3 separate regions of the Homo sapiens genome follow, and regions 1 and 3 are each reported to be linked to region 2. Evidence: microRNA targets listed by miRTarBase, many of them from high-throughput screens and not tested one by one. Region 2 holds a microRNA gene; each other region holds the end of a gene's coding sequence.
Evidence for each region. Region 2 holds the annotated microRNA hsa-miR-4441 (ACAGGGAGGAGAUUGUA, at 4,498-4,514, opposite strand). A microRNA usually pairs through its seed, bases 2 to 8, with sites in the 3' UTR of a target mRNA and lowers its output. Matches are read on the target gene's strand: a 7mer-m8 pairs with bases 2 to 8, a 7mer-A1 pairs with bases 2 to 7 and ends in A, and an 8mer does both.

Region 1 (7,301 bases), not on the chromosome of region 2:
TTTCCCCGCTTTTTCAGGACTGGGAGGTGCTGGTCCTAGGGAAGCTCAAGTGGGACCTGGCTGCTGTGATTGCACATGATTTCCTGGCCTTCATTCTGCACCGGCTCTCTCTGCCCCGTGACCGACAGGCCTTGGTCAAAAAGCATGCCCAGACCTTTTTGGCCCTCTGTGCTACAGGTAAGAGCCCTATGCACATTTTTGCCAAATTGGAAAAATCAGAAGACTTATAAGGGTGAGAGGTAACTGAAGATTCTGGTTTATACTGTCAAAATTCCTTTGTGAAAATTATACCCCCTCTGAGCCCCCAGTCTCAATGCAGAAAAGCAGGTTATAATCAGCTATATGGGATCTCAGACCCCTCCAGTTTGTAGTGGGGACACTGAGGGTATAGAGAGAAGTGACTTGCCCAAGGTCTCACAGTGAACAGGTTGGGAACAGAACCCCAGTCTCTTGGCCCTAGTTGTGTTCCCATACTAGGGAGTGTCTTGTCTATTCCCGGGACCTATGGAAACTGGCAGTTGGTTCTGATCTCTAGGAAAGATACTCTTTCCTGTCTTCCTCCCTTGCTGATATCTTGCCCCACCCACTGCTGGAGTTTTCCAGCATGTCCTCTGCTCTACTCATGCTGCCTGGCACTTTCCAAGGAGTCGGAAGTCCATGCTGGCCGTTATCCTTCAGGTTTCCTTCTCTCATGGTTCCCTTTCCTCCTCTCCAAGATTATACCTTTGCCATGTACCCGCCATCCATGATCGCCACGGGCAGCATTGGGGCTGCAGTGCAAGGCCTGGGTGCCTGCTCCATGTCCGGGGATGAGCTCACAGAGCTGCTGGCAGGGATCACTGGCACTGAAGTGGTGAGTGCTGGGTAGCTGGGCAGCAGCCTCTCCATTCATAAAGTAGTGCTATGCCCTGAGCCTCCAGTAGAGGGAAACCTCCAACCCCAACCTGGTCCCAAGTCCTGGTTTCACAACCTTGGGGCTTTGTGGCTTTTTATCTCCTGCCTTGGTCTGGGGAAGAGCAAGTATCTTGGGTGGGGTGAAGGGCACTGGCCCTAGGGGTTCTTTTCTTGCCAAGTGGTGTGCTGGAGTGGGGGTGGGGGGTTTGGTGTCAGATGCAGGGCTGCTCTCACACTCCCTTGCCACATCCTCTTGCTAGTTTCTGAGAACTAAAGAGCGATTCCTGGGGCCGGGCTGTGGCCTAACCTCCCCAGACTTCCCCATGTGTTGGGAGCTGTCCTTCCCCTGCACCTGCTGCCAGATGCTATGGGGGGAGTGTTTGCTCCTCACTCTTCTCCCATGTTCCCAGGACTGCCTGCGGGCCTGTCAGGAGCAGATCGAAGCTGCACTCAGGGAGAGCCTCAGGGAAGCCTCTCAGACCAGCTCCAGCCCAGCGCCCAAAGCCCCCCGGGGCTCCAGCAGCCAAGGGCCCAGCCAGACCAGCACTCCTACAGATGTCACAGCCATACACCTGTAGCCCTGGAGAGGCCCTCTGGAGTGGCCACTAAGCAGAGGAGGGGCCGCTGCCACCCACCTCCCTGCCTCCAGGAACCACACCACATCTAAGCCTGAAGGGGCGTCTGTTCCCCCTTCACAAAGCCCAAGGGATCTGGTCCTACCCATCCCCGCAGTGTGCACTAAGGGGCCCGGCCAGCCATGTCTGCATTTCGGTGGCTAGTCAAGCTCCTCCTCCCTGCATCTGACCAGCAGCGCCTTTCCCAACTCTAGCTGGGGGTGGGCCAGGCTGATGGGACAGAATTGGATACATACACCAGCATTCCTTTTGAACGCCCCCCCCCACCCCTGGGGGCTCTCATGTTTTCAACTGCCAAAATGCTCTAGTGCCTTCTAAAGGTGTTGTCCCTTCTAGGGTTATTGCATTTGGATTGGGGTCCCTCTAAAATTTAATGCATGATAGACACATATGAGGGGGAATAGTCTAGATGGCTCCTCTCAGTACTTTGGAGGCCCCTATGTAGTCCGTGCTGACAGCTGCTCCTAGAGGGAGGGGCCTAGGCCTCAGCCAGAGAAGCTATAAATTCCTCTTTGCTTTGCTTTCTGCTCAGCTTCTCCTGTGTGATTGACAGCTTTGCTGCTGAAGGCTCATTTTAATTTATTAATTGCTTTGAGCACAACTTTAAGAGGACATAATGGGGTCCTGGCCATCCCACAAGTGGTGGTAACCCTGGTGGTTGCTGTTTTCCTCCCTTCTGCTACTGGCAAAAGGATCTTTGTGGCCAAGGAGCTGCTATAGCCTGGGGTGGGGTCATGCCCTCCTCTCCCATTGTCCCTCTGCCCCATCCTCCAGCAGGGAAAATGCAGCAGGGATGCCCTGGAGGTGGCTGAGCCCCTGTCTAGAGAGGGAGGCAAGCCCTGTTGACACAGGTCTTTCCTAAGGCTGCAAGGTTTAGGCTGGTGGCCCAGGACCATCATCCTACTGTAATAAAGATGATTGTGAAATAAAACTGGCTTTGGCTTCTTGGATTGGTGTGTGGGTAAGTCTATTTCTGCACTGTATGAGGTAAGGAGGTGGAAGTCAATGGTCTAAAGCAGGGATCATTGAGCCTTTTCTGTAAAGGGCTGGATATTTAGGCTTTGTGGGGTACATGGTCTCTGACCCAAATATAGTCAGTTCTGCTTTATAATGTGACCTATGCGTTCCTAAAAATCACTATGCCATGCAAAATTGCACAATAAAGACCACAGGTCTCATGGGAAAAATGGGGCTTGAAGCACAACACTCAAATGAGTGACACATTTAAAAAAAAAGGATAGCTTGGTTTTTACATATGTCAAATGGTTGAGAAATTATATCACAATAAATATGGCCTTTTATCTTGAAGACATGCACTTTGCTTTTGGAAGTGGACGTCGGAAGGGTTGCTCAACACAGGTGGGGAGATGAGTGAGGTAGCTGGTACATGTTTAGGTGTGAGTTTTGTGTACTACTTAGGCTTGGTTCAGCTAGATACAGTTTCCCATATTCACCTACTATTTCTCGAGGATGAAATCACACACAAGCAAACATGAAGTCTGCGTTATGATCAAACTGTTCCCAAATATATTAAATGGGTTGGAACAAATGCGCAATTTCGAAAGCAAATAACAAGGGTTATAGCAGGATTATACTTAAACTCTGCTGTTGTAGCACAAAACCAGCCACAGAAAACATGTAAATGGGTGAGCATGGCTGTTCCAACAAAACTATTTATGGATGCTGAAACTGGAATTTCATGTAATTCCTACCTATCACAAAATACTGTTTTAATTTTTTCCCCATTTAAAAATGGAAAAATCATTCTTAGCTCATGGGCCACACAAAAATGGGCACTTGGGCTGGGTGCAGTGGCTCATGCCTGTAATCCCAGCACTTTGGGAGGCCGAGGCGGGTGGATCACCTGAGGTCAGGAGTTTGAGACCAGCCTGGCCAACCTGGTGAAACCCCTTCTCCACCCCGTCTCTACTAAAAATACAAAAATTAGCCAGGCGTGGTGGCACGCACCTGTAGTCCCAGCTACTCAGGAGGCTGAGGCAGGAGAATCTCTTGAACCATGGAGGCGGAGGTTGCAGCGAGCCGAGATCATGCCACTGTACTCCAGCCTGGGCGACAGAGCGAGACTCCGTCTCAAAAAACAAATCAACAAAAAAAGGGGCACCTGGCCCTAGTTTACTAGTCACTAGTCTAAAGCTTTCATTGGCTGAAAAGCCAGAAAGGGAGCCTGTTTGATGCTAGCTCTGATCTAACCATTCTTGGGCCCAGCCTTATTCTCTGGCCTTTTTTTTTTTTTTTTGAGACAGTCTTGCTCCGTGGCCCAGGCTGGAGTGTAGTGGCCCCAATCCTGGATCACCGCAACCTCCACCTCCCAGGTTGAAGCGATTCTCCTGCCTCAGCCTCCCAAGTAGCTGGGATTACAAGCACACGCCACCACACCCAGCTAATTTTTGTATTTTTAGTAGAGAAGGGGTTTCACCATGTTGGCCAGGCTGGTCTCGAACTCCTGAACTCAGGTAATCCACCTACCTCAGCCTCCCAAAGTGCTGGGATTACAGGCGTGAGCCACCAAGCCCAGCCTCTCTGGCCTTTCTTGACTCTTATCTCTGCTTTCCCCAAGGAGTTTTCTCTTGTAGTCCTTTCATCCACTGCTGAGACACGACCATCTTTGGACAACCTGCTCCTGGCTGCTGTAGCCTGTGATGGGGGAAGGCAGAGGATGTGTCCCCTGGGGGCTAACAAGGTGAGTGCAGCCTGGAGAAACAAGCTTGGAGATCAAGGGAGGTGGGTCCTATATAAACAGGACAAGAATGTCCTCCGTCCTCCAAATACTAACAGGAGTAATGCCTACCTCCATTGACTACACCAAACACAGAGGTTCAATAAATATCTGTCTTTGCCTTTATCCACAGTGACCTGACACAATAGCCATAGAAAAAGTACTCACACCAAGCCCCAGCTGGGGACTGGGAATGCTAGCATATGGTATCTCAAGTTGGCTCTCAGAACTAAACAGGGATAAGGGCCTAGAATGGAAGAGGGAACCAGCCAGACCCTCAGTCCTTCCTGTCCTGGACTGGGAGCCACAGATGTCCCTGTGATCTGTCACTGCCCTGATCTGGGTCTTCAGCCATTAAAGCTCAGTGTCATCTTCAGTCACCAACGGGGGTCTTGGTGTCCTTCCAAACCCCTTTGGCCAGGACAGCTGACTGTTTTCCTCACTCCACGGTGATGGGAACATCTTCCACATCGCGGGGGACTGCACTCTGAAGCTCACGCCTGATTTCGGGCGATAGCTGTGGATGGGGCTGCAGCCGGAGCAGTTCTAAGAGGGCCTCTTTCTGGTCTGTGGCCAAGTCGGCCTTGTAGCGCTGGACCAAAGTCAGGAGGCACTGGTGCCACAGCACAGGCAGTTCACGCTTCTCTGTCCGGAACCCCAGGAAGTGGAAGACTAGGGCATCCAGCACCCGGTAAGGCAGTGCATACTTCTTATCCAGCAGCAGTCGCAGGAAGATGCTGTTGGCACCGCTGTATTCCATCTCAGCAATTTTCAGCATGGCCGCACTAGTGGGAAAGGGAGGTGGGGTAGAGTAAGCAGGGAAAACATTGGAAGAAGGATCCTACTTCTCCCTCTATGCTTTCCCCTTTTTTTCTTCCCCTCTGCTGGCCCTTACACTATGGTATTCCCCAGGGACCTTCTCACCTACACAATCATATTATACTCCCTTGACCTCAGTCACCATCTCTACAGGGATCCACCCAAATCTCTATCTCTAGCATAGACTGCTTGTTTCAGTAACCAACTAGAGTATGGTCCAAACATCTCAACGTCTCCACCCTAACTACTTTCTTCCTGTGTTTCCTACTCATTTGTTTATCTATTTACTGAGAACTTACTTTATGCCAGGCACTCGGGCCCTGTTGTTGCACAACTTACATTGAGGGGGATAATGATACACCTACTCATTGGCTTAAACAAGCACAAACCCAAGGCTTTCCTTAGCTCCTTCTCCACTCTGCCCATTCCCAAGTCCTGGCAATTCCACTATCTGGATATCCACTGACCAGCCCCCTTCCACCCCCAGCAATACTACCTGGAGTGCAACACAGGGATGGAGCACTTGGTGATGATGCTACCCACAATGATGGCTTCCCGGAGGGTACAAGTGCCAGACTCGCACAGTGGAATCAGGATCCCTAGGGAGAGTCAAAGGGCAGCCACTGTGAGCCCAGGATGAGAAAAAGGAGTTACAGCAGGAAGCATTCCCACCCAGCCCAGGGACAGCTAGCAATTTCCCACACCAGGCCTGCTGTGTTCCCCATAGAAGCTCCAGCCCTTCCCTTTCTTCCGTGCCTCTGGGATCCCACCTTTGAACCAGGCTCCAGGTTTGAAAAGGGCCTTCTTGAGAGCCATGTAGAGATGGAAGTTGAGTCGTTTGTATTCAGCAACGTCATCTCGTACTCGAGGGAGCAGGACAAGGTTGTAGAAGCGCTGGGCCATGCGTTCCTTCAGGTTAGAGGCAAAAATCCTAGTGGGAGTTAAGCGGGGGAAGTTTCCAACTCACACGACAGTCTGGACCCGGCCCATTAAATATCACCATGGATAGTGCATACAAGAGGTTTTAAAGTAAAATATGGGACCTTTCTTTCAGTGGGGGATGTGTGGGAGCTGTGTGCATGCAACACCCATCAGCTTAGAGAGAGAATAGGAGGGGCAATGAGATATACCCAAATGAGGAGCACCGTTTGTCTGTGGGAGAGCCAGAGCTCGTGCAAACTGATGGCTACTCAGCATCAGTTGAGTAGCCCTGAGCATGCCTGGGCAGTCACAGACTTCTGAGGGTCCTGCTACAGGGTTGTATCCCAGTGGCTATAAAAGCCTCTCCCCTAGAAATTCATCACAGAGGGTTGTATCCCAGTAGCTATAAAAGCCTCTCCCCTAGAAATTCATCACGGAGGGTTCCTAACTGGCTAACTGGGTCTTGGCCCCAAAAAATGACACAGGAAAAGCTAGAAAAATGATGCTATAAAGTAGCACAGAGAGGGCCCTGGGGCAAAGCTCAAATGCCCTGGGGCCAGAGGCAAGGAAAGCCTGTCCGTCCCAAACTCAGCCTGCACCTATAAACCCAAGGCCCCCGAACCCCCAGCTACTCTACCTGGTGGCCTGGTACATGGCAGCTGCAGTCCAGGCCTCCGGCTCTGTGACGTAGAGGATTTGCTCCCAGTTGGAGAGTGCAGGGATGATCTTAAATGCCTTGGGCAGTTTTCCACTGCGGTACTTAGATAATACCTAGGGATGAGGGAGGTAAAACAATCATCGTCATCCACATATGGCAAGCTTGCTGTGGGCTAGGAACTTGTCTGGGTGCTTTTAATATATTAACTCATTGCATCCCCACAATAACCTATAAGGAGGTGCCATTATTATGCTCATTTTACAGATGACCAGTGAGAGTTCCAGTAACCGACCCAAGGATGCCAAGTCATTTACAGGCAGAGCAGGAATCTGAACCCACACACTCTGCCTCTTAGGTCTGTTTTCTACTCCCATGACTTCTTTAGTATGTGATGCAGGCAAAAGGCAAAAAAGCCTGTGGCAGGAGCCCACAGCCCCCAAAGGGGTCTTCCACCATGGCTCCCCTCTCAGCTCTTACCTCCCGGACCCCCCTGTACACTTCTAGGACCCGGGGGTCCAGCTGGGGCATAGGGAAGCCCGACACCTCTGACATGACTGTCTCAACCTCTGTCTGCTTCTCAGTCAGCTTCTCCATGATGATGTCAGCCAGGGTGCGCCTAAGAGGGGAAGTGCCAAGA
Region 2 (7,301 bases):
GTGCATATTCATTAAGACGCGTGTGAAGGGGCCCCACTGACAGGGGCACACTGACATCAGCAAGGGGGCCCTTTTCCTGGCTGCTGTAGGCTCTCGCCGACCCTGCCCTTGGCACACCAAGGCCCTGCACTGACATTTCTGCGGACCCGCCGCCCTGTGTTGTGTGCCGTGTGTTACATCAGGGAATCAGACCTGGGTCTCTCTGGGCAGAAAGTGTCTCCGATGAGCCTGTCATTTCCTACTTCCTCTAAAAAAATAATATCCAGAGGCAGACGGAGCGTCTTCCTGGATGAAAGCCCTGCTGTTGGAGCCTCTGTTCAGAGTGGGCAGGCTCTGAACGGGGACCTGGGGCGTTGTCAAGGAGCCGCTGGGCCTGCCGTTCCTGGGGCCGCCATGCAGCCCCGCGCCGGGCAAAGGACAGTGGACAGAGCCCCTTGCCGGAGGGTGTCCTGTGGAAGACAGTGGCCTGGGCCCTGCCCGGAGGAAAACGGGCACCACACACCTCCTCCTTCACAAACACCTCTGTCTGCCTGGATGGGAACCAGAAACAATATCCAGCCTCTCATTTGTACTTCAGACAAAACACAGGCCACCTGTGCACACGCGATACGATGCAGGCTGACGTCTGACTGAAGTTACTGTCTGGGCTTAAGTGAGCACGAAGGCCGCACTCACTGCTGCCGGGCAGCTGTGGACCGTCTGCCCCGTGCCCCCACAGCGGCTCCCCGCAGTCCCCCTTTCCCCCCAGAGGCCCTTATATACCCCACCTACCTCATCAGGAGCCCCGCTGCCTGGGAAGAAGTTCCCATCGTCGTAGCGGTGGAGGGACATGTACAGGACGCTGGGGTCGCTGTAGAAAGCCTGCTGGGTCCCGTTTCCATGGTGCACGTCCTTAAAGAGCAGGGACAACTACTTCAGGGCTGAGGCAGGTATTGGAGGGTGGCCTCCCCTGAGGGCCGTCCCCAACCCCAGTTGTGCTTAGTGACAACGGCTCCTGCTCAGGAATGACATTACCCTCCAGCTGGGCCCGTACCCGGCAGGCGCGATTCTGGGGCTGTGTGGGTCAGGGCTACGTGGTGCAGGGTCGCAGGGGTTCTAAGGGCCAATGTTCGCGTCTGCAGCACTGTTTCCCTCGCCCTTAGCGCCATGGCACAATCCTGACTCCAGCAGCCGATGGGGCTGGAGTTCAGCCAGGCCTAGAGGCCACCATTTCCCAGACGAAGCCATCTGATCAATTTCCTACACCTGCCGTGTCTCTGACAAGTGAGCCACTTCCTCAGCCTCTGTCAGGAAGGAGGTCACTGGCTGTGGCCTGCCCGCTTGCAGGCACGTGGGAGGTGCCAATTCCATGCCAGGCAGGGCGTTCGGCAGGAGACAAGTCCCAGGTGTCCGTGAGTGACAGGCACACACAGTACGGGGTCCAGGCCCCTGTGCCCAAATGGCAAGCACCGTTTCTTAATCACAAAACCCACAGGTCAGATGCAGCAGAGAGCACAGGCAGCCTGGGGCTTTACTGACCGTGGCTGTTCTGCCCCGGGCCACAGGGCAGGTGGTCACCAGGATGGGCGGGCGAGGGGGTGGCCCCGCTGAGAACAGCTGTGTGCCTGAGAAGACAGCATGCAGCCCTGATGTTCCCAGCACGAGAACTTGCTGCTCCGTTATCTGTGCTCATCACAGAAAAGGCGGAAGGGCAGCTACAGGTGAGGAGCGATGGACAAGAACCTTCCACCCCACAGAGTAGGTAATCGCTGTGAAGACGCACATGGAGGCTTTCCCGACATGTGGCTTCACACTGAGATGACCCTGTCCGCATGGTGTGTACATGGGCAATATCACAGCTCAGCGCGCAGGGAGCACGCCACACAGGGTCTACGCAGCCTGTCTGCGTGTCCTAGCGCTTCACTCTTTTGGGGATGGGTCCCCAGTCTTTAGCCATCAGCGACCTCACACTGCTCTCTTCCCAGGCACTCCTACCTGCTCCCTTAGGAGGAGCTGAGGGAGGGCTCCCGGCTCGCAGGTCCTTGGGTGTGGGGGACCCGCTGCTCTGCCGCATCCCCTGACCTGCCTCTCCGAAACAGCATGGCTGTCCTGGCTGTGCCATATTGTTTCTTTACCCAAACTCAGAAGGACTTCTCCAATTCAAATCATAACCCTACCTGACAGGGCCTGCTTTTTTCCCTTAAAAATTATGAAATAAATCATAAATACCAAAGAGAACACTAAATATGTATATATCTGGCTTTAAAAAGAGTAATAAGATGAATATCTTGAATATTAATTTCCGGTATAAGAATGAGTATACCTATTCGTGGAATTCAGATTCGGACATCATATAGCATTATTTAAAAAGAGATGACTCTTTTGGGGGCAGTGGCACCCCCCATTCCAGCAGGACCAGGTGCCCACACAGCAGCAGGAAGGCACGGGCTTCACTGGGGTGACTGAGAAGCAGACTGCCGCCTTCGACCAGGGTGAGGGTCCTCCCAGGCTCCCAGGCCACACACGCAAAGTAGATGTGGACACAGCCTCCTCCCCAACACCTGTCTTCCAAGAAGATCTCGTCGAGGGTGGCCCTGGCCGCTGCCGTCACCCACAGGCACATTTTTAGACACGCCAGGACCCCATTCGCCAGGGTCGGCTGACGGAAGCTGTACAATGACTTGTAGCAGGTTTGGGGCTTTACTTCTCCGCATCTTTGAGACCGTTTCCAGAAACCTAAGCTTCCCACATCCAAGAGCCCAGCTCCTCTGTCCACACGCTGCTGTCCGCTCGGGGACGGCAAAGGAGCAACCTGAGCTGCGCTGGCCAAGGCGGCTCTGCTTACCCAGTCCACGATGAGGATCTTGCTCACGCTCAACCTCTGCTGCAGAAGCTTGGCTGCCACGGCCACGGAGTTGAAGTAGCAAAAGCCCCTGCGGGAGAGAACTGACGCTGGAGACGAAGCGCAGGTGGGCGGTGGCCAGTTTCTCCACGGCCCGCCAGAGAGCCACTCGGGGTCCACGCAGACCTAAGAGGTCTCTGTGAGTGCAGAGCTCCTGAATACGTCGCAGGGAACCCTCAGTGATGCCGGAGAATCGGTTAACAGACAGACACGTACACACCCCACATGCAGACACACTCACACGCGTGCGCGCGCACACACACACACACACACACACAGCTCCCAAACAAGCCACTGGGGAATCTTAGCCAATGCCATAGGGTCGGCTAACCGACACGGACATGCACACACCCCACACAGACACACACACCACAGACAGAGACACACACACACCCCCCACAGACACACACACCACAGACAGAGACACACGTACACCCCACACAGACACACACACCACAGAGACACACCCTCCCACACAGACACACACACCATGCAACACGCCCTACACACATACATGCCCCACAGATACGCCCATACACCACAGACACACACCCCACACACACTCCACACAGACACACACCCCACACACACCCCACACCCCACAGATAGAGACACACACACCATGCAAACGCCCTACACACATATATGCCCCACAGATACGCCCATACCCACCCCCCCCACGTAGACACACATGCACAGATACACATGAACACCCCATACAGAAACACTCACACACACACAAACCACAGACACATACAAGCACACACACACATATACACATAAGCATATACCTATCACACACATCCACAGTTCCATACTGAGACAGACAGACACACACACACACACACACACACACACACACTCTCCTGCTTGGAGGTCCCCCACGCTCCTCTGGTAGGGAACCCTATTTCACATGTTACCAACATTTCCCTCATCTTCACCTGGAACCCTTCCTCTCAGGAGCTGCCGCCACGCCCCAGGAGACATGGCAGCCGTTCATCTCAGTTGCTTCCTGCTGACCTTCCTATATTCCAATACATAAATTACCTTTAATTTTAGAGAGTCTTACTCAAGAGACCAAGAAAACAAGCTATGAAAGTGATTCAAATAACAACGAAAACCTTCTTGATCTCAAATTCCCTTTGTCCGAATGACCACAGAAACGGAGAAACACTAGTTGTTTTGTTTTCAGAATCCGGGCTGGCATGGGGAAGCCCACACGCCCCAGGACATCCTAGACGCTGAGCTCCTGCAGCGGCTCACGGGGAGCACAGCGAAGAGCTGCAACAAAACACAATTCGTTTGTCTCCTCTGAGGTTTATTATTTGGAATATCCAACAACTCAGGTTCAAATTAGAAAAGAAACTTCAGAGAAATGAAACAAACAGGAAGCCTGGTGCCCAAGTGACTGTTCTGGGATGTGGAGCAAACACGTGGTTTTCAGGTAAAGCTACAAAGATTCCAACAAGCATCCCTCCCTGGCGGTTACAATCTCCTCCCTGTACACGAAGGACACTCTGCTCTAACACGCGGATCTGACTATCTCTCACGTACAATCTCCTCCCTGTACATGAAGGAGACTCTGCTCTAACACGCGGATCTGACTATCTCTCACGTACAATCTCCTCCCTGTACACGAAGGAGACTCTGCTCTAACATGCGGATCTGACTATCTCTCACGTACAGTCTCCTCCCTGTACACGAAGGAGACTCTGCTCTAACACGCGGATCTGACTATCTCGCACGTACAGTCTCTTCCCTGTACACGAAGGAGACTCTGCTCTAACACGCGGATCTGACTATCTCTCACGTACAGTCTCCTCCCTGCACATGAAGGAGACTCTGCTCTAACACGCGGATCTGACTATCTCGCACGTAGTCTCTTCCCTGTACACGAAGGAGACTCTGCTCTAACACGCGGATCTGACTATCTCGCACGTACAGTCTCTTCCCTGTACACGAAGGAGACTCTGCTCTAACACGCGGATCTGACTATCTCTCACGTACAGTCTCCTCCCTGCACATGAAGGAGACTCTGCTCTAACACGCGGATCTGACTATCTCGCACGTAGTCTCTTCCCTGTACACGAAGGAGACTCTGCTCTAACACGCGGATCTGACTATCTCGCACGTACAGTCTCCTCCCTGTACATGAAGGAGAATCTGCTCTAACACGCGGATCTGACTATCTCTCACGTACAGTCTCCTCCCCGTACATGAAGGAGAATCTGCTCTAACACGCGGATCTGACTGTCTCTCACGTACAATCTCTTCCCTGCACACGAAGGAGACTCTGCTCTAACATGTGGATCTGACTATCTCTCACGTACAGTCTCCTCCCTGTACGTGAAGGAGATTCTGCTCTAACACGCGGATCTGACTATCTCTCACGTCCTGCCGGCCCCTCCGTGGACGCCTGACTTCCCAGGGGTGACAGGGAGGCCCTTTCCCGGGCCCCTGCGGTTCTGTCTTGTTCTGACTGCTTCCTGGCCACAGCCTGATAGTGAACTTGTATCTGCACTTGTTCTTGCGTTGCCATCTGACAAACTGCTGCTCCAACTCTCCAAGGCAGAGCCCTATGCCACCTCCTCCTCACCGAAGCTGGCAAGATCAGGCACGCCTTCTCCATCTCCAGAGCATGGGGAGACGCTCTTTCTAGCACCACCCCTCCTCACTAGAGCGGCTACCGTCCCAGGAGACAGCATGCTCTTTGACGGGATAGATCATTCATTCACCACCCAGGCTGCAAGGCACTCCACAGACAGCTGCGGGTCTGTCCTGCCACTGGCTCTGGACACACAGGGATGGATCCGGGAGGACCCACACCCCACACTCGCCACCCTGCCCAGATCCTCAGCTGTATGGACCGTCGGCAGTCTCTGAAAGACCCGAAACAGCATCAGGATAGCTGCCTGCATGGACGTGGCTCTGTGGCTTGCTGCGTCAGTACCAGGCATTCGGCAGGCAGCTAAAAGGCCATGCGCAAAATGACCTGAGTCCTCTAGACAAGCAAGTGCTGCAGTGACTCACTTGAGGGTGAGTGGTGTTTCCTCTCCCAAGTGTTGACAACTACTCAACAACCAGAGGCTTCTCTGGACTAACCTCCACAGACCCTTTCCCATCCTTTCCTCTGATCTGTCTCCGTCATAACCGAGCAGTGATGCTCGCAGACTTTGGCATCTGCACTCCACACCCAGGAGCTGGAGCCAAGCCGGCATGCGGCACATCCTGGGTGGCCAGCAAACAGCAGCCCAGCTCCCCGCAGTCACTCACACACCCACCCAGCCCTAAGGGAGGGAAGGAAGACCTGGGTTCCCCTGCTGTGCGGGGCTGCGGCGTGTACTCACATGGGCGTGCTCTCCTCCGCATGGTGTCCAGGGGGGCGGACCACAGCAAAGCCATTCTGCAGGTGACACCAGACAGCCAGGAGAGAGCAACAAAAGACACACTTTGTAGCCACGGGAAAATGGTTGCACACTCAACTTTTAGCAGAGTTGGGCTACACAGGAGGACAGTTTCTTGCTGCACCCTGGCCACAGTGATGGGGACAGGATGCAGGGCCAGCTGGGAGCCTTTCCGGGAAGCCTGGGCCCTTCTCCTAAAGAGGTCTGGGGGCTACTAATGGTTCCCCCGAAACGCAGTCACTAGGATAACAGGTGGGTGCCTGCCCACTCTCAGAACTGTCGGTGAGGCGTGGTGCCCTTGGCTCAGGGGTCGGGGTGATGTGGAAAGGATGTGCTCACTCCCCGTCGGCTCGGGACCAGGACCCGCTAGGTGGCCACTGGAGGAAGATGAAGCAGAAGGGGCCCCACTCAAGGACTTGGCCGCGGGGCAGAGACGTTGTGTCCCAGCTTGGCCTTCACGTGACTGCCTCTGTCCTTACTGCAGTTCAGCTCTCAGGATGGCGGGCAAGTGGGCAGCCCACGAAACAGCTCCTCTCACACTGGGCAGAAACGCTGTCCTCTGCCCCATCACTTCTGCGTCAAAAATCCATCTGCAAACCACTCTGTAGTTGCTGCCATAAAAATGGATTCCAGTCCTCTCCTGGTCTCACCAGCAACAGGACACTGTGTGGTCAAGGTCTGTAATGAAGCCTCAAAAAAAGTGCCGGCCAACCATGAGTGACAATGCCATGGACGGGGTGAGCCGGACGCCGCAGGGACCAGGCTCAGGAAGGGGCGAGGGCAGCCCATGAGGTGGCGGCAAACGCTCTCAAGAGGCCCTGGCCTCCCTGCGTTTCTGCACTCAGTGCTTCCGAGTGTAGGCTGCAGACCCCTCGGTCCCGACCCCTGCTGAGGGTCTGTAGTCCACGTAGTCCTGAGGCTCTATGTACTCTTTTCACTGCCCTGACACCTGCGCCGATGGTGCTGAAGCACCGGAGGGTAGACGGCGGGCAGGGAACAGCACCAGGGCGTGTGTG
Region 3 (7,301 bases), not on the chromosome of region 2:
CGGATCACCTGAGGTCAGGAGTTCAAAACCAGCCTGGCCAACATAGCAAAACCCCATCGCTACTAAAAATACAAAAATTAGCCAGGTGCAGTGGTGGGCGCCTGTAATCCCAGCTACTTGAGAGGCTGAGGCTGAAGAATTGTTTGAACCTGGGAGGCGGAGGTTGCAGTGAGCCGAGATCGCGCCATTGCACTCCAGCCTGGGCGACAGAGCAAGACATCTCAAAAAAAAAAAAAAAAAAAAAAAAAAAAAAATTTCATAGGAGCCAAGATTCCAGCATAACCAAGGGTTCAACTTACATGTCCCATGTCTTAGAACTGTTTCCTCTATTTACCTTTATTTGTTCCCATTTCACAGATAATTTTCTCTTTTAGGTATGATGTCATTCTAAATGGATAACTCCAGTAATTAATGTTAATAACTTTCTACAATTTTCTAACTTCAAAAATTTTTTTCAGAGATCATCTCCAATCCTCTTGGAGACACTGTCACTGCAATTACAGGTGGAAGAATAAAATGACCATCACTTCCCAGCAAGGAGATGAGGTCATGGAATCCCAAACCTTATTCTCAGAGTTCAGATGCCCATGCCAAAAACTGATGCTACTTTCCTAGTAGCAAATACCAGTTTGGTAAGTAACCACTATTTCTACATAAATGTCATATTCTTCAAAAAGTAGATTATATCTTGGAGAATCCAGTAAGAAATGTTATACAAAAAATTGTAATTTTGAGGTTTAGAATACAAATACTCAGAAGGAACATACTATGAGGGACTCAGAAGCATAGACCACCTCATGCATTTGCTTTAGTGCCCCTAGAATCTCTATTCCATATTTTCTCTTATAACGTGTCTGGATTAGCCTCCATTTCATCCCTGACCTAATACTCTGAACTTCACACAATCACTCGAAGAGTTTATTTGCCTGTGAAGTGAAGAGCAATAAGACAATTTGTTTTACTCACAACTACTGAGTGGACATTTGGCATCTCTGTAGCAATTAATTGGAAATACACACTTTTGCTTTTTTTAAAACCATGATTCCAAAATAGAATCTGTAGGGGTATTTTACTAAAGATTCTCAGACACCTGCGAGACCAAACATTCTTTCTAATTTAGTGTAAGAAAAATATTTGTAAAAAGTAGTAAGTTACAAATAGATAATCCTGAATACAAGGACTCTGAAGCTATAATTGTTAGGCAGATTTGAAAGCATGGTTTGTTTTTTTTGTTTTTGTTTTTTTGACGGAGTTTTGCTCTCGCCGCCCAGGCTGGAGTAATGGCGCAATCTCTGCTCACTGCAACCTCTGCCTCCCGGATTCAAGCAATTCTCCTGCCTAATGTTAGTATTTTTAGTAGAGATGGGGTTTCACCATGTTGGCCAGGCTGGTCTGGAACTCCTGTCCTCAGATGATCCGCCTGCCTTGGCCTTCCGAAGGGCTGGGATTATAGGTGTGAGCCACTGCACCCAGCCACAAGCATCTTTTATAAGTATACAGTAATGTAATTATCAGTGTTTTGCTATGTCCTATGTTGAAGTAGCTCAGGTAATTTTGAATCAGCATAAGTATTTACTGTGTCATCTAGACGTCGTAAGATGGCTTATTCTGGTCACATACACTCTCTGATGAATATCTAGTTTCCTAAAGACTGTAATTTTCTTTCTTTTTTTTTTTTTTGAGGTGGAGTCTTGCTCTATCACCCAGGCTGGAGTGCAGTGGTGTGATCTCGGCTCACCACAAGCTCCGCCTCCCGGGTTCATGCCATTCTCCTGCCTCAGCCTCCCGGGTAGCTGGGACTACAGGCGCCTGCCACCACACCCGGCTAATTTTTTGTATTTTTAGTAGATATGGGGTTTCACTGTGGTAGCCATGATGGTCTCCATCTCTTGACCTCGTGATCTGCCCGCCTCAGCCTCCCAAAGTGCTGAGATTACAGGCATGAGCCACCGTGCCTGGCCTAAATAACGTAATGTTAAGTTAAATCTGAACTGTGCTCCCATAGTACCTCTGTACCAGAAAACCTTGAGCCTTTTTGAAAACTTGAAGTTTGTAAGAGGCTTAGTGTTAAGCCTAATCTTAGGATTTGCAGACTCCTAGTCTTTTTCCCCAATTAATACACTCTTTGTTAATCTCACAAGTTAATTTGGCATGCTTGTATATGGCTTAAATTTATTTCATACATTTTGATATTAAGTAATTTCATTTCTTTCCTTTTCATTAGTCTCTTATTGTGCTTCATCAACCTAATTGTTTGTTGTTCTAATAGTATTTTTTTCAATTTTTACAGTGCTATATAATTTACTGTTTTAAACAAATCTATGCATATGTGGCATATTATCCTCTCTGAATTGCTTACTCTGTAATTTAGACTGAGATCACTATTGTTAATTTTCCCAGGAACAATTTTATTCATTTTCAAATATACTAGGAACTCCATTGCTAATCTCTGTGGTAATTGCTCAATTGTCTTCCACAGCTCTTTAAACCAATCCCAAAAGGCCAGGCACAGTGGCTCATGCCTGTAATCCTGGCACTTTGGGAGGTCAAGGCAGCCGGATCACCTGAGGTCAGAAGTTCAAGACCAGCCTGACCAACATGGAGAAACCCTGTCTCTACTAAAAATACAAAATGAGCCAGGCGTGGTGGTGCATGCCTGTAATCCCAGCTACTCAGGAGGCTGAGGCAGAAGAATCGCTTGAACCCAGGAGGCAGAGGTTGCAGTGAGCTGAGATAGTGCCATGGCACTCCAGCCTGGGCAACAAGAGTGAAACCCCATCTCAAAAACAAAATCCCATTTATGATTATGAAATTCAAAATGATCAAGGCTATTAACATGTTATCCCACACACCAGAACTGTTGTCGAGTTTTCAGTTCACCAATAGGTATTTCCCCTCAAAAATTTGATGCCTTTTACTATTTTATGATTTTTTTTGAGACAGTCTCGCTTTATTGCCCAGGCTAGAGTGCAGTGGCGCAATCTTGGCTCACTGCCACCTCTGTCTCCTGGGTTCAAGCGATTCTCCTGCCTTAGCCTCCTGAGCAGCTGGGACTACAGGTGTGCGCCTCCACACTGAGCTAAAGTCTCCAATTTCATCTAAATTGTCTAAGTCCAATATGGATGAGGCTCTAGGTATAATCCCATCTTGGGGCACAATTCTTCTCTGTGTTGCTGGGGGGTTCGGGGGGGTCTCTGGACATTGTTGGTGAGATCCCAGCCCCAGCAGCATCCAGGTTCTTAACACCATTGAAAGAATTCAGTGACGAGTCACAGTGAAGCAAAGGCAAGCAGCTTTTATTGTGAAGCAAAAGTACACACAAGAGAGAAGTGTGGGAGTGCCCCTGAGAGCAAGTCATGCAAAACAAAGTTTGGGTTTCTAATTGTATGGGTGTTCCTTTAATAGGGGTAATCATTAGGTATTCTGGGAAAAGAGGGGATTTCAGGGACCCCTGATTACCACCCCTCCTCCCTTATTTGGGTTTGCCTGGAAGAGTTACAGACATGTCACCCTGACTGGGGTTCTGGCAGTTTTCTCTTTTGTTTTGGGTTTTCTGTTATCCCACGGTTTCTTTGCCTAGTTCCCGTTTTAGCTGTTGTTTGGGTTTTTCTTTTTTTTTTTCAGCTGCACCAAAACCAGGGTGTTGAGATTTTCCATCCTCCTGTGACCACCCAGTGCTATTCCTGTCTCATTTGGATCTGTAAAACTAGAAAACTAGTTATCTGCTCCCAAACAAAAGGTTGGGAAAGACCTAGGATAATAGTTATATGTATATGCATTGTTTCAAAAGGGGAGGAAATGGAAGGGGGGAAAACAAAAAAAATGGAACCACCAATCCCAAGAAAATCTGAAATCTAGTTTGGCAAATGCCACTGGGAGTCAAGACATGGGAATATCACATGGTTCAGGACTCTGCCCACTGGACTCTCCTCTGCTCTGAGTCATCCTTCCTTTCTCATGAAAGGTAGCAAGGGCTTGCACCTGTTTCCGCAGCCAGTCCCATGTATAGAATATTACAACCTTTAACTTCACACTTTACATGCCTACACCCTTTAACTTCATACTTTCAAGGTCCCTTTAGACCCAAGGTGAGCATTTCCACTGGTATAAAATTTTCAAGAATTTTGTGAGTCTCCTGTACATCACTGAAATTCACAACATTAGAAAAGAGGTTTATGCAGATTATTCCTCCTAGGGAATCCCCTATCTATATTTTTGGCTTTTGCTGAGATGAGTGATAGTTTAAACTTCTTATAAATTGTTTGTATTGAGGGGATCTACAAGTCACATTTAATCTCTTCAAAGAGCTTTTTGTGTGACAGTGTTCTGATGTATGTTTTGATCCCGGTATCAGCAAACATCCTTGGCTATCTCTCTAAAACATCTCTCTCTCTAAAACATCTATCTTTCCTAACAATGAATCTCTTAATTTCAATGGTTTGTTTTTTTTTTCCAATTAAGATGGGCTGAGAATTTCCCAAATCATCAAATCTTAGGTCTTTTCTGTTTCACAGTTCTTCCCTGTATGTATCTCTTTTCCAATATATTTTACTATAATTAGTAAGATATATGGTCACACCTTCAAAACCTCTGCTTAAAAATGTTCTCAGCTAAGTGTCCACATAAAGACTCATGCATCAATATTTGCAGCAGCTTTTTAATATTTAAAAATGGGGGTGGAGTACAGACATCAATTAAGATAAATGGATAAACTGTGGTATATCCATACAGAATATGACTCAGTAATTTTAAAATGGACTGTTCATACATACCATGGACAAATTTCAAATTATGTTGCATGAAAGACAGCATGCAAAATTAACACTTTATAGGCAGACTTACATAAAATTCTAGAAAAGACAAATTTACCTACAGTGAAAACTACTCAGTGGTTGCCTAGGGATTCTGGGGGAAGGCGAGCACTGAGAGAAAGGTTAAGGGCCTCAGGTTAACTTTGGGGGTAACAGATATGTCCAATACCACTGATAGGGTGATAGTTTCAAGTGTGTGTGTGTGTGTGTGTGTGTGTGTGTGTGTGTGTATCAAGACTTAACTCGTACACTTTAAATATGTGCAATATATTGCATGTTGATTACACCTCAGTGAACCTATAAAAAGTTATCCCATTTAAAAATCTGGATCTCCCACTTCTATTGGAAACTGGACAACTGGACATCACTAAGAGTGACTCTACCTCACTATGGTGACTCTTATCACTCCAAATATCTTGGGAAGACAATCTCTTCCTCAGTAGTAAGAAAAACTGGCAAACAATGAGGACCATTGCCAAAAGAGTCACCAGAAACTCCAGCTGGTCACAAAAGCTACTTCCTTGGACCACACCTCTTTACTCCCAGGGTTACCGCCTGTGCCGCAAAGACATTAGGTAAAGAGCCCAGGGAGGGAGAGGAATCTAGAAAAACTACATTCGTTGCTGCACCAGTGACCTTGACCTAACAGTAACATGGCCCTGGAGATCCTGAGATTTCTGGATACCCTGATCCCATTCAGCCTTAGTGCCTGGACTGTCTGTGGATGTGTTTTTACAATGGGCACTTCCCCTCTAGTTTGCCACAATCTCCCCAATCCCAATTACTCACACTCAATATTTATCAATTTTGTTTCCCTACTGGATGCTTTAGATCTTACCAACAGTGGCCTGTGAAACAGATTCAGGCCTTCAGGGAATATGGCCACTCAGCAGGTCCTGAGGAACAGCTTTCCCTCAACAGTGTTGGGGAACATGGGACACATGCTGCAAACAAGACACCCAATCCATGCTGTTTCAAAACACTGCAGGCTGTCACAGCAGCAGCACCCTCCTCAAGGTGAAATATGGGCTCTCAAATAACTCTAAAATCCAGACAAATCAGGTCTACACAAGATCTTAATTCTTACTTAACAAGCTTTGTCAGCTATGGAAGTTAACATCAAAACTGGACTAAGAACTGTTCTCCCTCAACCCACTGTCCCATTTGAGGCAAAGTTGGAGGCACCGCACAAAGGCTGTCTTCAGTTTGGCAGAGCCTGTTTTCAATCCACCCCAGACCATAAGAAGAAGCCCCAAGATTAAATGTGGCTTAAACTGTAAAGCCTTTATTATCACAAACCAGAGCAACATGAGGCAAGTACTTTCCCAGGCCAGGTGACTTGGAGGCTGGAAAAACTTGATTACAAGTATGTGAGACCAAGAATATCCATGAAGAAAGTAAACTTTTTGTATAAGCCACCAGCAGATACAGCTCAGACCCTCTTGGCTAAAAATGGGTCATATCCATACCTATACCTGTCATACAGAAGGGAATGAGGACCCCCAATGAACTCAGGCATTTCATGATTTTCTCCAGGGACTGGACAATACAAAACCCTGCCTTCCCCAATGCTGGGGTATCTTAGCTGGTAGAGTTAAGATGGTTTCGGCCACATGGATTGACAGTGACATAACTCTGGCAAAAAACCTGAGCAAGTCAGAAAGTGCAACATATCCCTAGAAGGTTCCCACGTACCTGGCACCATAAGGTATCTCCTTTGTGTCAATGTTCAGATACATGAAATTCAACATCTGATTGATGAGTCCTGTTGTATTCAAAGCACTCCTAAAGCCTGCCTGCAGTGTGAACTTTCTGGTGCCGATTGAGGTGGGAGCTTAAGCTGTAGGCCTTCCCACATTCACTGCACTCATATGGCCTTTCTCCAGTGTGAACTCTTTGGTGTCGAACAAGGTGGGAGGTTCTGATAAAGTCTTTCCCACATTTACTGCACACAAAAGGCCTTTCACCAGTGTGAACCCTCTGGTGTGCAATATAGTCAGAACTTCGACTAAAGAATTTCCCGCATTCAATGCACTCAAACGGCTTTGACTCAGTGTGAATTCGCTGATGTTTAATGAGGGTGTATTTGTGGCCAAAGGATTTCCCACAATCACTGCAATCATAAGGATTTTCTCCAGTGTGAATACTCTCATGCTGAACAAGTGTAGATTTGTGTCTGAAGACTTTCCCACAATCACTGCACTTATAAGGCCTTGCTCCATTGTGAACTCTCTGGTGTACAATTAGATTGGAGTGATGGCTAAAATATTTCCCACATTCATTGCACTTATAAGGCATTTCTCCAGTGTGGATTCTCTTGTGCTGAGTAAGGTTGTCTTTTCGACTGAAGGTTTTTCCACATTCGCTGCATTCATAAGGCCTTTCTCCAGTATGGATTCTCTGATGCTGGACAAGTGTAGCTTTGCGGCTGAAGGCTTTCCCACATTCGCTGCACTCATAAGGCTTCTCTCCACTATGAATTCTCTGGTG

Region 1: miRTarBase lists CCND3 as a target of hsa-miR-4441. Seed matches in the 3' UTR shown: 7mer-m8 at 1,530-1,536 and 7mer-m8 at 1,685-1,691.
Region 3: miRTarBase lists ZNF134 as a target of hsa-miR-4441. Seed matches in the 3' UTR shown: 7mer-A1 at 5,681-5,687, 7mer-m8 at 5,397-5,403 and 7mer-A1 at 3,442-3,448.

What each region holds. Positions count from the first base shown.
Region 1 is chr6:41,930,111-41,937,411 of GRCh38, reverse strand. It overlaps CCND3 (cyclin D3), which reads left to right. Exons shown (of 5, transcript NM_001760.5): 3 at 18-177; 4 at 717-853; 5 at 1,305-2,460. The coding sequence ends at 1,472. It overlaps BYSL (bystin like), which reads right to left. Exons shown (of 7, transcript NM_004053.4): 3 at 7,142-7,280; 4 at 6,644-6,777; 5 at 5,856-6,016; 6 at 5,582-5,684; 7 at 4,366-5,051. The coding sequence ends at 4,706. Among named protein-coding and RNA genes, the nearest start is that of CCND3, 8.0 kb to the left of the region's middle.
Region 2 is chr2:239,081,331-239,088,631 of GRCh38, forward strand. It overlaps MIR4441 (microRNA 4441), which reads right to left and starts at 4,596; the gene lies at 4,497-4,596. HDAC4 (histone deacetylase 4) reads right to left here. Exons shown (of 27, transcript NM_001378414.1): 19 at 6,229-6,284; 20 at 2,825-2,912; 21 at 772-891.
Region 3 is chr19:57,620,699-57,627,999 of GRCh38, reverse strand. It overlaps ZNF134 (zinc finger protein 134), which reads right to left. Exons shown (of 3, transcript NM_003435.5): 3 at 3,276-7,301. The coding sequence ends at 6,597. Among named protein-coding and RNA genes, the nearest start is that of ZNF211, 8.8 kb to the left of the region's middle.